Linked DNA regions of Homo sapiens. The main gene of each other region encodes a partner of the protein of the gene in region 2 in a complex. Each region holds a gene or a part of one and is shown on either strand. Other genes may lie near its edges.

The links.
Region 1: the proteins of HDAC1 (region 2) and RBL1 are in contact, whole or in part, in a crystal structure (PDB 7SME), measured with the Homo sapiens proteins. Residues at the interface, in NP_004955.2 of Homo sapiens: Ile414, Ala415, Cys416, Glu418, Glu419, Phe420, Ser421, Asp422; in NP_002886.2 of Homo sapiens: Tyr849, Ile850, Lys853, Val854, Thr860, Phe861, Gln862, Met865, Lys866, Tyr879, Arg880, Asp929, Leu930, Ile931, Tyr934, Asn935, Val939, Lys943, Leu947.

What each region holds. Positions count from the first base shown.
Region 1 is NC_000020.11:37,029,605-37,038,153, reverse strand, and holds part of RBL1 (retinoblastoma-like protein 1), read left to right. Parts: intron 1-2,645; coding exon 2,646-2,912; intron 2,913-5,277; coding exon 5,278-5,489; intron 5,490-8,549. UniProt on the Homo sapiens protein: Key regulator of entry into cell division. Directly involved in heterochromatin formation by maintaining overall chromatin structure and, in particular, that of constitutive heterochromatin by stabilizing histone methylation.
Region 2 is NC_000001.11:32,315,665-32,324,213, reverse strand, and holds part of HDAC1 (histone deacetylase 1), read right to left. Parts: intron 7,550-8,549; coding exon 7,432-7,549; intron 1-7,431. UniProt on the Homo sapiens protein: Histone deacetylase that catalyzes the deacetylation of lysine residues on the N-terminal part of the core histones (H2A, H2B, H3 and H4).

The DNA of each region.
Region 1 (8,549 bases), on a different chromosome or scaffold from region 2:
CAGGCATGGTGGTGTACACCTGTAATCCCAGCTGCTCAGGCAGCTAAGGCAGTAGAATTGCTTGAACCCAAGGGATGGAGTTTGCAGTGAGCGGAGATCGCACCACTGTACTCCAGCCTGGGGACAGAGCAAGACTGCATCTCAAAAAAAAAAAAAAAAAAAAAACAATGGCCGGGCGCAGTGGCTTACACCCGTAATCCTAGCACTTTGGGAGGCCGAGGCGGGCAGATCACGAGGTCAGGAGTTCAAGACCAGCCCGGGCAACACAGTGAAAACTGGTCCCTAGTAAAATACAAAAAATTAGGCAAGCATGGCAGCATGCGCCTATAGTCCCAGCTACTTGGGAGGCTGAGGCAAGAGTGAGGCAAGAGAATTGCTTGAACCCAGGAGGCGGAGGTTGCAGTGAGCCGAGATTGTGCCACTGCACTCCAGCCTGGTCGACAGAGTGAGACTCCGTCTCCAAAAAAAAAAAACAAGATTGCATAAGATGTGAATACTCAGTCATTTTAATCAGTGGGAATAATTATAATTATTATAATTGTTTTTTGATCTTTACGAATCTTGTCAAAATGTTAAAAAAAAGGCTCTTCTTTCTGTCAGTTATTAATGTTTAGAGAAATGAAAAAATAGTAAAAATATTTAGTATACTATAATTTAAAACTTACGAAATATTGAGAATTATTTTCTTTTTTAAAAACTTAGCAAGAATAGTTTAAACTGTGCTTGCCACCTTCCTCTCATATAATTTATAACTAAGTGAGCATCTTTTCTGTACCTTGACAGATTGTCATGTTTCTAAATTTGGATCCGCTTTACATTTGTATATTCATTACATTCTTATTGAGCATCCACCATAGCTGTTCCAGTACTGTGCTAAGAAAAGATCATTTCAATGGATTTGCAGCTAACTTTATGGCTTCAACTCGAGTCTTGCCTTGAAATGTCACCTTTAAACATGCCTAGTCAGATTCAAGGGCTTGCGTGGATTTCTTAGATATAAGGCATTCACATGGACTCTTGTAAAAGAGTAATGGAAACAACTATAGAAATTTGCACTTGTTTACTGAAGACAGGAGAAGTAAAAGCTGCTTTCATAAGCCCAAGAATTACGGAGATTTTTATTAAACTATAACTATTTTCCCAATCACCTCACTAATACAGAGAGCTTCTAAATCATTGCCAGGGGTCATTTTCATACCTTTTGAACATGTTTTGAAAATAGATTACAGGGCCAGGCGCAGTGGCTCACGCCTGTAATCCCAGCACTTTGGGAGGCCGAGGCGGGCAGATCACGAGGTCAGGAGATCGAGACCATCCTGGCTAACACGGTGAAACCCCATCTCTACTAAAAATACAAAAAATTAGCCGGGCATGGTGGCGGTTGCCTGTAGTTCCAGCTACTCAGGAGGCTGAGGCAGGAGAATGGCGTGAACCTGGGAGGCGGAGCTTGCAGTGAGCTGAGATCATACCACTGCACTCCAGCCTGGGCAACAGAGCGAGACTCCATCTCAAAAAAAAAAAAAAAAAGAAAAGAAAATAGATTACATGACTATCTAATTATCTAGTGAATGTAAAAATAAATAATGAAGGCCGGGCACGGTGGCTGAAGCTTGTAATCCCAAATGAGGCAGGTGGATCACCTGAGGTCAGGAGTTCAAGACCAGCCTGGCCAACATGGCAAAACCCTGTCTCTACTAAAAATAGAAAAATTAGCCAGGCATGGTGGCACATGCCTGTAGTCCCAGCTACTTGGGAGGCTGAGGCAGGAGAATCGCTTGAACCCAAGAGGCAGAGGTCACAGTAGGCCAAAATCGTGCCACTGCACTCCAGCCTGGGTGACAGAGCAAGACTCCATCTCATAAATAAATAAATACTTTTGTTTTAAAAGCATATTATTGACCTACCTGTAAGGAATAATTGGTTGAGGGAAGAATTGTGAAAAAAGATGTAGAAAAGATGTAGGGTTGTAAGGGGCTAGAAAAACCCGTGCAGCTGGTAGAGAGGGAATGGAAAGCAGATCCTGTGAAAGGATAGCACAGGAAGAGAGGCAAAATCCATAATCCTTACTTTATTTTTGATCAACACAGTACTGCCAACCCTCAGATTAAGGCAAGGTAAGCAGATTTATATCATCTTTACTCATATCTTCTGATAGATTTACTAAAGATGATTCCATATCTACTAAATTAGAAAGCCAGAGCTACCGCCTTAAACTGCTTGGAGTGCAAATATTCACAAAGAGGCAAAACTGTGACCCAAATTCCTGATTTTTGCTTTTGCTTCCCTTCTTCTCAGGTGCTCTCTACTAGGTAAGATTGGGAGATATTGGACTACTACTAAAATTTAGTGCTCACTTCATTCTACCTCTCAACCTCTACTTTGTCCTTAATGTTTTGCTCCTTTAATGTAGGCAGAGGTTCAAGAAACCAGGAAGATGAGTGATCATAATTTTCACGTTTTATCGTAGTGACTTATTTCATGCCTCTTTCTCCCAGTAGACTACATATTCCATGAGGGCAAAGGCCATGTTATTCATATCTAGCTAGTGCCCAGCATAAGTAACTCACTATCTGTTGAGTGAATGAGTAAACCTAATTTATTATTTTGGAATACATTTCTGTTTTAAATTTATTATTTTTTTTTAGATATGCAACCATTGTCTCCAATTTCTGTCCATGAACGCTACAGTTCTCCTACCGCAGGGAGTGCTAAGAGAAGACTCTTTGGAGAGGACCCCCCAAAGGAAATGCTTATGGACAAGATCATAACAGAAGGAACAAAATTGAAAATCGCTCCTTCTTCAAGCATTACTGCTGAAAATGTATCAATTTTACCTGGTCAAACTCTTCTAACAATGGCCACAGCCCCAGTAACAGGAACAACAGGACATAAAGTTACAATTCCATTACATGGTAACGTTATAGTGCATTTGTTTTGTACTTTTTCTGAGATAAAAATTTAAGAAATGTCTTAGTGGATTAGATCACATGGTTTTTCTAACTCATTATTTTTTCTTGAACCTATACTTTTTTTTTTTAAATAGATTTGAATTTTTTAGAGCAGTTGTAGATTCACAGCAAAATTCAGAGGAAGGTACAGACATTTCTCATAGTCCCCCTTCCCCAACCAGAGGCATATAAAGCCTCCCTCATTATCAGTATTCCACACCAGAATGCTACATTTGTTACAGTTGATGAACCTACATTACTGACACATTACCCAATGCCCATAGTTTACATTAGGGTTCACTCTTGGTGAATAGTTTATTGATTTTGAGAACGTATAATGACATGTATCTGTCACTATAGCTCCATACAGAGTAGTTTCACTGCCCTATAAATCCTCTGTGCCCCACCTTTTTGTTTTGAACCTATAGTGGTTTTTTTTTTATTTTTAAATTTTATAAATTTACTACCCTCTCTGTTTGTTTAGACTTATTTTACTTTTTCTTTTCTTCTTTTTTTATTTTTTGAGACAGGATCTCACTCTGTCACCCACATTGGAGTACAGCAGCATGATCTCATCTCACTGCAACCTCTGCTCCCAGGCTCAAGTGATCGTCCCACCTCAGCCTCCTGAGTAGCTGGGACCACAGGCAAGTGCCACCACTCCCAGCTAATTTTTTCTATTTGTGGTACAGATGAGGTTTTACCATGTTGCCCAGGTCTCAAACTACTTTTAAAATGTTCTTATCTGAGCTTTCCAATATGTATGTATTGAGCAAAAATTCTGTTTTTTGACTAACAGCTCAAGTGCTCAAAATGTTAAAAAAAAAAATGCTTTTTTTTCCAATAAATTTAAACTATAAATGTATCCCAGGCAAATACAAAATAGAGAACAAAATTTGCTTTTTTTTCCATAAATTTAAAGTATAAAAACAAAACCGAATATTCTTGTTTCTAGAAAATAAGGATTTATGCGGGGCATGGTAGCTTTCACCTGTAATCCCAGCACTTTGGGAGACCAAGGCAAGAGGATCACTTTAGCCCAGGAGTTTGAGACCCAGACTGGGCAACATAGCAATATCCTATCTCTACAAAAAATTAAATTAGCTGGGCATGGTGATGTATGCCTATGGTCCCAGCTACTTAGGAGGCTGAGGCAGGAGAATCACTTGAGCCCAGGAATTTGAGGCTACAGTGAGCCATGATCACGCTACTGTACTCCAGCCAGGACAACAGAGCAAGACATTGTCAAAAAAAAAAAGAAAAAGAAAAAAAAAAGGGGGCCCGGGGGGCGCCAGGCACAGTGGCTCACACCTATAATCCCAGCACTTTGGGAGGCTGAGGCAGGTGGATCACTTGAGGTCAGGAGTTTGAGACCAGCCTGGCCAACGTGGTGAAACCCCGTCTCTACTAAAAATAGAGAAAAAACATTAGCCGGGTGTGGTGGCGCATGCCTGTAGTCCCAACTATTCAGGAGGCTGAGGCAGGAGAATTGCTTGAACCTGGGAGGCAGAGGTCTCAGTGAGCCAAGATGAGGCCACTGCACTCCCACCTGGGTGACAGAGTGAGACTGTCTCAAAAAAAAAAAAAAAAAGTCCAGCTGCAGTGGCTCATGCCTGTAATCCTAGCATTTTGGGAGGCCAAGGCAGGCAGATGGCTTGAGCTGACGAGTTCGAGACTAACCTGGGCAACATGGCAAAACTCCCATCTCTAAAAAAAAAATACAAGCCGGGCACAGTAGCTCACTCCTGTAATCCCAGCACTTTGGGAGGCCGAGGAGGGCAGATCATGAGGTCAGGAGATCGAGACCATCCTGGCTAACATGGTGAAACCCTGTGTCTACTAAAAATATTTTAAAAATTAGCCGGGTGTGGTAGCATGTGCCTGTAGTTCCAGCTACTCAGGAGGCTAAGGCAGGAGAATTGAACCCGGGAGGCAGAGGTTGCAGTGAGCCGAGATCACGCCACTGCACTCCAGCCTGGGCGACAGAGCAAGACTCCATCTCAAAAAAAAAAAAAAAAAATTTACCAGGCATAGTGGCTTGCACCTGTAGTCTCAGCTATTTGCGGGGGTTGAAATGGGAGGATCACTTGAGCCCAGGAGGTCGAGGCCACAGTGAGCTGAGATGGCGCCACTGCACTCCAGCCTGAGTGACCAAGTGAGACCCTGTCTCAAAAAAAAAAAAAAAAAGAATTCAGTCATAACCTAGAATTACTATTTTGTAGCCTTCTTATACACACAGATATATGTATATATAATTGTCAAAATATATATAGTTGACAACTTTCCTAGAACATATGCAGATTATTTCTAATAATGCTTATACATTCAGGTGTCGCAAATGATGCTGGAGAGATCACACTGATACCTCTTTCCATGAATACAAATCAGGAGTCCAAAGTCAAGAGTCCTGTATCACTTACTGCTCATTCATTAATTGGTGCTTCTCCAAAACAGACCAATCTGACTAAAGCACAAGAGGTACATTCAACTGGAATAAACAGGCCAAAGAGAACTGGGTCCTTAGCACTATTTTACAGAAAGGTATGTGTTTTTATAGCACTTTAGAAGAATTTGTTTAATCAATGGAAGAAAGATTGAGTAACAGAGACAGACTTTGGTCTTTTTTTTTTCTAATATACATAACACAAAATTTACCATTTTAACCATTTTTAAGTGTACAGTTCAATGGTATTAAATACATTCACATTGTTGTGCAGCTTTATTACTACCGTCTATCTCCAGAACTTTTTCGTCTTCCCATTCTGAAATTCTGTATCCATTTCTCCCTTTCCCCAGCTTCTGGCAACTACTATTCTACTTTCTGTTTCTGTGAATTTGACTACTCTAGGTTCTTCCTATGAGTGAAGTCATACGATATTTGTTTGTTTTTGTGACTGGCTTAGCGTAATGTCTTCTAGGTTCATTCATATTATAGCTTGTGCCAGAATTTCCTTCCTTTTCAAGGCTGAATAATATTCCATTGTATGAAGAAGAGAAAAAAAGAACAAAAGAAAAAATATTCCATCATATGAATATACTTTTTTTTAATACCACATTTTGTTTATTCATTCATCTGCTGATGGGCATTTGGGTTGCTTCTACCTTTTGGCTATTGTGAGTTATGCTGCTATGAACATTTGTGTACAGGTGTCTGTTCAAACCAGGCGTGGTTGCTCATGCCTGTAAACCCAGCACTTTATGAGGCCGAGGCAGGAGGATCACTTGAACCCAGGGGTTTGAGACCACCCTGGGCGACACAGTGAGACCCTATCTCTATTTTAAAAAAAAAAAAAAAAAAAAGCAGCCAGGTATGGTGGCAGATGCCTATAGTCTTGGCTATTTTGGAGGCTGAGGTGGGAGGATCACATGAGCCCAGGAGGTTGAGGCTACAGTGAGTCGAGATCACACCACTGCGCTCCAGCCTGGGCAACAGAACGAGGCCCTGTCTTAAGAAGAAAAAAAAATAGCAACAAATATCTATTCAAGTCTCTGCTTTCAATTCCTTTGGGTATATTCCCAGAAATGGGAGAGTAATTTAGTATTTCATTTTCTGAGGAACCACCGTACCATTTTCCACAGTGGGTGGACCATTTTACATTACCACTAGCAAGGCACAAGTGTTCCAAGTTCTTCTCATCGTTGCCAACGTTTCGTGTTTTCTGGTTTGTTTGTTTTTTTGATAATGGCCATCCAATGGGTATAAAGAGACATCTTACTATAGTTTCAATTTTCATTTCCCTAATGATTAGTAATATTGAGTATCTTTTCATGTGCTTTTGCCCATCTATATATCTTCATTATAGAAATGTCTATTCGAGTCTTTTGCCCATTTTTTTAATTATGAGTTTTGGGTTTTGTTTTTGTTAAATTGTAGGAGTTCTTTATGTATTCTAGATATTAATCTCCTATAAAATATACTATTTACAAGTATTTTCTCCCATTCTGTGGGTTGCCTTTTCATTCCGTTGATAGTGTTCTTGACACATGAAAGTTTTTAATCTTAATAAAGTCAATTTATTCTTTTCATTTTTTGTCTGTGCTTTTGGTGTCATACACAAGAAATCATTGCCAAATCCAGTATTATAAAACTTTTCCCCTATGTTTTCGTCTAAGAGTTTTATAGTTTTTAGCTCTTATATTTATTATGTCTATTTTTTTTTGAGACAGAGTCTCACTTTATCACCCAGGCTGGAGTGCAGTCACGCAGTCACAGCTCACTGCAGCCTCCGCCTCCCAGGTTCAGATGATCCTCCCACCTCGACCCTCTGAGCAGCTAGGACTACAGGCATGTGCCACCATGCCCAGCTAATTTTCGTTTTTTGGGTTTTTTGTTTTTGTTTTTTTTTTTTTTGAGACAGAGTCTCACTCTGTTGCCCAGGCTGGAGTGCAGTAGCGCAATCTCGGCTCACTGCAACCCCTGCCTCCCGGGTTCAAGCAATTCTCCTTTCTCAGCCTCCTGAGTAGCTGGGACTACAGGAATATGCCACCACGCCTGGCTAATTTTTGTATTTTTAGTAGAGACGAGGTTTCACCGTGCTGGTTTGGCTGGTTTCAAACTACTGACCTCAGGTGATCCACCCACCTTGGCCTCCCAAAGTGCTGGGATTACAGGTGTGAGCCACCACGCCGGGCCTGTTTTTGAACTTTTTTGTAGAGACGGGGTTTCACCATGTTGCCCAGGCTGGTCTCAACTCGTGAGCTTAAGTGATCTGCCCACCTCAGCCTCCCAAAGTGCTGGGATTACAGCCGTGAGCCACCACGCCCAGCCCATTTTAATTTTTGTATATGGTGTTAGATAAGGGTCTAAAGTCATTCTTTTGCACATGGATATCCATTTTTCCCAGCACGATTTGTTGAAAGACTGCCCTTTCCCATTGAATGAGCTTAGAATCCTTGTTGAAAAGTCACTTGAGCATAGATATGGGGGTTTAATTCTGGGCTCTCTATTCTATTCATTGGACTATATGTCTATCTGTATTCAGTACCACACTGTTTTGATAACCATAGCTTTGTGTCATAAGTTTTAAAATCAGGAGGTGTGAGACCTCCAACTTTGTTTTTCTTTCTTAAGATTGTTTTAGCTATTTAAGATTTCTTGAGAGTCTGTATGAGTTTTAGGATGGATTTTTCTCTTTCTGCAAAAACATTGTGGAATTTTGACAGAGATTGCATTGAATATGGAGATCGCATTGGCTAGTGTTGACATCTTAAGAATGTCAAGTCTTCCAGTCCATGATCATAGGATGTCTTTTCATTTGCGTCTTCTTTAATTTCTTTCAGCAACATTTTGTAGTTTTCTGTATATGTCTTTTGCAAGACAAGTCCTTGCTTAAGATTATTCCTAAGTATTCTTTTTGATGCTATTGTAAGTAATAAGTAAGTAGAATTGTCTTAATTTCATTTTTTAGATTGTTCATTAATGTAAAGGAACACAAGAGATGTTGTTGTATTGATTTTCTTGCAGCTTTGCTGATTTGTTTATTAATTCTATCAGTTTTTATGGATTCTTTAGGTTTTTTGAGTTTTCCATACACAAGATTATGTCATCTGTGAACAAAGATAATTTTACTTCTTTCTTTGCAATTTGGATTTCTTTTTCCT
Region 2 (8,549 bases):
TGACCCTCACCTCCTGGGCTCAAGCAATCCTTCCACCTCAGTCTCCCAAGTACTTTGGACTACAGGTGCATGCCACTATACCCAGCTAATTTTTTTTTCTTTTTTTTTTTTTTAGAGACAGAGCCTCACTATGTTCCCTAGGCCTCATGCAGTCTTCTTGCCTTGGCCTCCCAATAGGCATGTGCCATCACACCTGGTCTTAGCCCATTATCTATAACAAGCAAAACTGATATCCCACCTCACCCACTGGTCAGAAAATTAACAAAAATCTAATATGGAGAAGCAGTTAGCAACTTGGAAAATGTTGGTTCGTTTCTTGAGGGAGAAAAACTTATCCTCTGGCCCTCACGCCAGCTGACAAACAAGGGGCAAGAACAGAGACCCAGAGAACTATCGTTCACTGCGCACGTACAACACGCCAGACACTGCGCTACATGCGTTAAATACCCGAGATCATTCATCTTCACACAAGCTTCTGAGGTAAGATTTGGTCCCATCTTATAAGTAGGGAAACAAGGCCTGGCACAGTGGCTCACACCTGTAATCCCAGCACTTCGGGAGGCTAAGGCAGGAGGACCACTTGAGGCCAGGAGTTCAAGACCAGCCTGGGCAACATGGAGAAACCCCATCTCTACCAAAAACATAAAAATTAGCCAGGTGTGGTGGCAGCTGCCTGTAATCCCGGCTACTTGGGAGGCTGAGGCACAAGAACCACTTGAACCCGGGAGGCAGAGGTTGCAGTGAGCTGAGATCGCGCAACTGCACTCCAGCCTGGGCGAGACAAGAGTGAGACCCTGTCTCAAAAAAATAAATAAATAAATAAGTAGGGAAACAGGTTCAGAGAGGTGAGCTGTTAGTAAATGGCAGAAGCAGTATGCAAGCCTCAAGCTTTGGTTTGTCTGTTTTTTTTTTGAGACGGAGTTTTGCTCTTGTTGCCCAGGCTGGAGTATAGTGAAGTGATCTTGGCTCACTGTAATCTCTGCCCTCCAGTTTCAAGCCATTCTCCTGCCTCAGCCTCCCGAGTAGCTGGGATTACAGGTACCTGCCACCACACCTGGCTGATTTCCGCATTCTTAGTAGAGACGGGGTTTCACCATGTTGGCCAGGCTGGTCTCAAACTCCTGACCCTGTGATCCGCCCGCCTCGGCCTCCCAAAGTGCTGGGATTACAGGCATAAGCCACCGTGCCCAGCCAGCCTGTCTGTCTTAAAAGCCTGTGAAAATATATCCCGGCCCTTTTCCAAGTCCTTTCACATATACAACCTCATTTGATCCTCACAACAACTCTATGAGCTGGACAAGCCAGATATCAACCCCACTGTGCGGAGGAACAAACAGATACCGAGAAGTTAAGTGATTTGCCCAAGGTTATAAAACCAGGCAGTAGCAGAACCAGAATCAGGGTCCCGGTGTCTTGACTCCCGTAGCCCAGTGTCTTACTGCTACATTCACAGTGACAAGTGGAGTAAAGTTATTTCGGGCCTAATGGGGTAAAAGTACCAAGTAGTACATAATGTGGAAACATATGCAAACAATAAGGCAAATGAAATGAAAACAGGAAGGAAAGCACACCTGGAGGCTGTAGACTCACAGACCTAGAGGAACTTTATAGCTCCAAATCTCCTCTTACAGAAAAGGTAACTACTGGCCGGGCGCGGTGGCTCACACCTGTAATCCCAGCACTTTGGGAGGCCAAGGCAGGTGGATCACTTGAGGTCACGAGTTCAAGACTAGCCTGGCCAACATGGAGAAACCCCGTCTCTACTAAAAATACAAAAATTAGCCAGGCATGTGCCTGTAATCCCAGCTACTCAGGAGGCTGAGGCAGGAGAATCACTTGAACCCAAAACGTGGAGGTTGCAGTGAGCCAAGATTGCACCCCTGCATTCCAGCCTGGGTGACAGGGCGAGACTCCATCTCAGGAGAAAAAAAAAAAAAAAGTAACTGCTGAGACATCAATGAGCTACAGGAAGTCAGAGGCAGGAGGTGTGGGGCTGCATACTTATTCTCTTGCCCAGCCTTCTACTGTACCCACTGTTATCAAGATTTCCAAAAGTAGAGGAAGGAGCAGCCCTGGGGTGAGAGCAGAAGAGCTCAGTTTGGATTGTGCTGGTAAAATCTCAAGACACAGTTGAAGCTCAAGATCTACAATAACCACAAGAGTTACCAGCTCTGGTTCTGCACTAAACTTGGAGGGTGCCAAGATCCGGTGCTCTGAGGAAGAAGCATGGCTGCATGAGGGAGTGTGCAGCGGGTGGGTCTCTTCCTCACTTCCTGGGTAAACACTGGGAGGCTGTGTAAATAAGAACTTTGGTCCCTGGGCCCCGGCTGTTTATCCATTGGCAACTGATTTCCCTCTCTGGCCACTTCCTCCTGCACAGAGTTTGGCCTGCCTGCGTTTCCAAAGCTTTGTTTATACTCTTATTTGGGATATGGAGCCTCCATGGGAAGGAATGGGTGTTTTGGACGTGAGAAAAAAAAAAATATTTTTCTTCAGGCACCAAACCAACATGTAGCTCAAATGACCAGCCCTTTTATTCCTAGTCAATAAGCTATGTGATTAGAGATGGAAAGGGGGCAAATGGAAGAGCAGATACTCATGTGAGCTAATCTGTGAGGGTAGGGAAGACTTTTCCATGGGTTTTCTCTCTTTCTGCTATAAACGCTTTTCTCATTCTCACACTAGCTTTAGACTAAAGGGAAGCAATACTGGGTGAGAGGTGGAAGCAGACGTAGGCAGAGAAGGCAGTCAAATGCTCATTGCAAAGAGATGGGAAGATTAAACACTAACCTCAGGATAGTGCTTATACCTTGGCAGTGCTGGTAATGGGGTGGGGGGCTGGGGGAGTGGGAGAGAAAGGGTATGTGATCAAGGAAAGATGCCCAAGGGGGCATCAACTGTATTGATAATGTTTTCTTTCTCAGGCTGGGTATTGGGCACACATGGATGTTCATTATATTATTATTATTATTTTTTTTTTTTTGAGACAGAGTCTTGCTCTGTTGCCCAGCCTGGAGTGCAGTGGCGCAATGTCAGCTCACTGCAAGCTCCGCCTCCTGGGTTCACACCATTCTCCTGCCTCAGCCTCCCAAGTAGCTGGGACTACAGGCACCCACCACCACACCCGGCTAATTTTTTGTATTTTTAGTAGAGATGGGGTTTCACTGTGTTAGCCAGGATGGTCTTGATCTCCTGACCTCGTGATCTGCCCGCCTCGGCCTCCCAAAGTGCATTATATTATTTTTTGATGCTTTTTGTGTGTGTCTAAAATATGTTTTTTTCTTTTTCTGTTTTTTTTTTTTTTTTTTTTTTTTGAGATGGAGTCTTGCTCTGTCGCCCAGGCTGGAGTGCAGTGGCGCGATCTTGGCTCACTGCAACCTCTGCCCTCCAGGTTCAAACAATTCTCATGCCTCAGCCTCCCGAGTAGCTGGGATTACAGGCATATACCACCACACATGGCTAATTTTTGTACTTTTGGTGGAGACAGGGTTTCACCACGCTGGCCAGGCTGGTCTCAAACTCCTGGCCTCAAGTGATCCACCTGCCTCAGCCTCCCAAAGTGCTGGGATTACAGGCATGAGCTACCCTGCCTGGCCTGTGTATCTAAAATATTTTATATACACTATATTTTTTAAAACTACAGAATTGGGGGACTAGAGTTCCATTCTGCATTCTACCATCACCTTGCTGTGTGACTGGGAAAGTTTACATGTCTGTAAAATGGATGAGAATGTCTCCCAATTTTTTACCAATCCCTTTTATCATGTTTTCACCAAAAGCCCCCTAAATGCATTTATTTGTGTTCCCATTTTCACTTGCTAAATATTAGGTCAGAACTTCTGGTCAAGGCTCTCAAAGTGACCAGAAAGGGTTTATTACATTTCAGCCACAAGCAAGGAAACCTGATTTACTCGATCTTATCATAAGCATAACTTCCTAGATTAGGTGTGTGGGATGTTTTTGTGTGTGTGTGGGTTTTTTTTTTTTTCTTTTTGAGAAGGAGTCTCGCTCTGTCGCCCAAGCTGGAGTACAGTGGCGTGATCTCGGCTCACTGCAAGCTCCGCCTGTCGGGTTCACACCATTCTGGTGCCTCAGCCTCCCGAGTAGCTGGGACCACAAGCGCCTGCCACCACGTCCGGCTAATTTTTTGTAAATTTTTAGTGGAGACGGGGTTTCACCGTGTTAGCCAGGATGGTGTCTCGATGTACTGACCTCGTGATCCGCCCACCTCGGCCTCCCAAAGTGCTGGGATTACAGGCATGAGCCACCACGCCTGGCCATGTGTGTTTTTTTTTTATTGAGACGAGTTCTTGCTATGTTGCCCAGGCTGGAGTGTGGTGGCGAAATGAGACCATACCTCAATGCAGCCCTGAACTGGGCTCAAGGGATCCTCCTGCCTCAGGCTCCTGAGTAGCCAGAATCACAGGCATGTGCCACCATACACAACTAATTTTTTATTTTTATTTTTTTAAGATAAAATAAGAGATGGGGGTCTCACTATGCTGCCCAGGCTGGTCTTGAACTCCTGGCCTCAAGCTATCCCTCCTGCCTTGCCCTTCAAAGCACTGGCATTACAGGTGCATGCTACCATGTCCAGCGCCTAGGTTAGATATTGGTACATATTCTAAAAGGGCAAGTTAAGGATTAAGGAATTTGAGGCTGCAGTGAGCTATGATCTTGCCACTGTACTGTACCCTGGATGACAAAGCAAGACCCCATCTCTAAAAACAAGAATAAAAATAAAAATAATTCTTTTTTTAAAAAGGGCTCATTACTGTCTTGGTAGATACCCCAGGTTATAAAGCACTGTGTTAAGTGACATCTAAAGTCTCTGTCTACTCTGACCCTCCATAACCCTACAAATCAACTCAGTGAGGTACTCTGAAGTTCTTAGAGAGGCTTATTCTTCCTGCCCCCATTTCTGATGACAGAAAAATCCAAGACCTAATTATTTTAATTAGAAAAATTTTTTTTAGAGACCAGGTCTCACTATATTACCCAGACTGGCCTTGAACTCCTGGGCTCAAGAAATCTTCCTGCTTCAGCCTCCTAAGTAGCTGAGACTATAGGCACCCAGACTGAATTTTTTTTTTTTGAGACGGAGTCTCGCTCTGTCGCCCAGGCTGGAGTGCAGTGGCGCGATCTTGGCTCACTGCAACCTCTGCCTCCTGGGTTCAAGCAATTCTCCTGCCTCAGCCTCCTGAGTAGCTGGAATTACAGGCATGTACCACCAAACCAAGCTAATTTTTGTATTTTTAGTAGAGATGGGGTTTCACTATGTTGGCCAGGCTGGTCTCAAACTCCCGACCCCAGGTGATCTGCTTGCCTCAGCCTCCCAAACTGCTGGGATTACAGGCGTAAGCCACCACACCCAGCCAGACTGAATTTTTTAATGTACAACTTTAGAATGCTGGATTCGGAAAAATTGGCGCACCAGAGCAGAACCTGCACACTCCTCAGGGCATAGCATTTTGTCTGCCTTGATAAGTTTGTAAATAATAAAAATAGTAAGTCATAATAGCAAAAGTGATTATGCAATAGCAAAAATAGCAAAAGCAATTCATTGAGGGTAGACATATTATATATATTTAAATATATTATCTTCACTTATTCCCCCATCCTTGACTATGAAATAGGCACTAATGTCTTTTTTTTTTTGGTCTCGCTCTGTTGCCCAGGCTGGAGTGCAGTAGTACAATCATGGCTCACTGCAGCCTCGACCTTCCAGGCTCAAAAGATCCTCCCTCCTCAACCTCCTGAGTAGCTGGGACCACAGGTGTGCACCGCCATGCCCAGCTAATTTTTTTATTTTTTTGTAGAGATGAGGGTCTCACTATGTTGCCCAGGCTGGTCTCAAACTCCTGGCTGGGCTCAAGCAATCCTCCCACCTTGGGCTCCCAAAGTGCTAGGATTACAGGCATGAACCGCTGTGCCTGTCCTGTCTTCCTCTTAAAGAGGGAAAACAGGTCGGGCACAGTGGCTCAGGCCTATAATCCCAGCACTTGGGGAAGCCGAGGCTGGCATATCACCTGAGGTCGGGAGTTTGAGACCAGCCTGACTAACATGGAGAAACCTAAAAATACAAAATTAGCCGGGCGTGGTGGCACATCCCTGTAATCCCAGCTACTCAGGAGGCTGAGGCAGGATAATCGCTTGAAGCCGGGAGACGGAGGTTGTGGTGAGTAGAGATCGCCCCATTGCACTCCAGCCTGGGCAACAAGAGCGAAACTCTGTCTCAAAAAAAAGTGGCAGGGGCGGGAAATAACACCAGAGGGGCTAGGAAACCAAGGATTCAAACTAAGACATGAAAGCTTATTTTCTTACTTTAATAGCAAGTTGCTCCTCTAGTGAGAGCCCACTGTGCTGAGAGTAGAGCCTGATCCTTGGCCTAAATGGGTTATGGAAACCTCTAAAGCCATCTACAGGAAAGGCATGAATTTGCCTCATCTTGGAGGGAAATAAGACCCTGCAATTCAGAGAGCAAACACCTCACTCACAGCAGCTGGCAGCTCCTGGAGTTGTCGGTAGCAAAGAAGCTTAATGCTTCAAGGAAGGTCTCTGTGGTTCTGCCATCAATACCACTGTACAGTTATTATTAGTTGTAATAATAGTTATAAATAACTTTCTTCCTTGGGAGTAAGACTACCTTGTGGTCAGCAGCAACAAACAAGTGCCGCATATTTTCTGACACTTCCATATAAGCTGTCATAAGTTAATCAAAACTTCTTCTGGACAGTGCTGTTATACTATATGAAGTCTTAGGTGCTAAGAGATAATTTCTAAAATAACACAAGGGGGAAGTCAGGTATGATAGTTTTGTCCCAAATTTGAATACTTTTTTTTTCCCCCTCACAGCTAAAATAATTCCCACGATTCCTACAAACTAAGCGTGGCTTCCAAGATGGGACCTGCTCTGAAGTTCAAGTCCAAGGGATCAGGGGCAGCATCACCTCATCTCAAAGATTACACCATCTAGAATCTGTCCTGAGTGGCCTCTAAATTCTCAATTAATACCCACTAAGTCAAAACAGTTACAGTTGGACAGAAATCAGAGATCATGTGGCCCAGCCCACTTTACAAAAGAAGAATCTGAGGGGAAGTGACTTGCCCACTCAGCTGAGAGTTAGAGTTAAATTTTACTGTATCTATTGTCTCCCCGTCCCAGGTCAGTGCTTTTTCCACTACAATAATTACAGTACTCTTGGGACAGTGTTGTGAACATAACCAGAAAAAGTACTACCTCTATCGTTTACAAATCAGGAAACATGAAAAATCCGACTTGAGGGGAAAAAGCACTCTGGCACCTTTAGGAGGTAGGGGAAATCAGGTGTCCACTGAATGGGAGGTGCGAGGACGGCAGAATGGGCCTCTACAGTGGAAAGGGAGATGCAACTGGCGGCTTCAGAGTGTGAGGGAACAGAATGGACTTACATCTCTGCATCTGCTTGCTGTACTCCGACATGTTATCTGGACGGATGGAGCGCAAGAATTTAATGTAGTCATCGCTGTGGTACTTGGTCATCTCCTCAGCATTGGCTTTGTGAGGGCGCTAGAGGGCAGAAGGGAGAAAGGGCAAGTTATTTTTGACCACGGCCAGTCCAGTCAATCTAGTTTGAATATTTATATTTCCTGCGCAGCATGGAGCTAGGTGCTATAAAGAATAAAAAGAAATAACTGGTTAGATTCAGGCTTCAAGAAATTTACAATCTAACTAGGCAAACAAGATTATCAAAGGAGACAGAGTATCAGAAGACCTACAGCAGCTCAAGCTCTGTTGCTTAGGCAAGTTACTGTCTCTTGAACCTCCATTTCCTCATTTACTAAACAGGGACAACATAGACCACACAGGGAAGTTGAGAGAATTGGAAGAGGTTGTTAAATCTCTTTGTAAACTGTAAGGTGCTTTACAAAATTATTACTTTTTTTTTTTGAGACGGAGTCTCGCTCTGTCTCCCAGGCTAGAGTGCAGTGGCGCAATCTCGGCTCACTGCAAGCTCCGCCTCCCGGCTTCACGCCATTCTCCTGCCTCAGCCTTCCAAGTAGCTGGGACTACAGACGCCCACCACCACGCCCGGCTAATTTTTTTTGTATTTTTAGTAGAGACAGGGTTTCACCGTGTTAGCTAGGATGGTCTTGATCTCCTGACCTCGTGATCCGCCCGCCTCGGCCTTCCAAAGTGCTGAGATTACAGGCATGAGCCACCAAGCCCGACCTTTTTTTTCGTTTTTTTTTGTTTGTTTGTTTGTTTTGAGGCGGAGTCTCACTCTGTCACCCAGGCTGGAGTGCAATGGCATGATCTCGACTCACTGCAACCTTCGCCTCCTGGGTTCAAGCGATTCTCCTGCCTCAGCCTCCCGAGTAGTTGGGATTACAGGCGCCCACCACGACGCTGGCTAATTTTTGTATTTTTAGTAGAGATGGGGTTTTACCATGTTGGTCAGGATGGTCTCGAACTCCTGACCTCAGGTGATCCGCCCTCCTCGGCCTCCCAAAGTGCTGGATTACAGGCATGAGCCACTGCGCCCGGCCTACAAAATTATTACTTATTA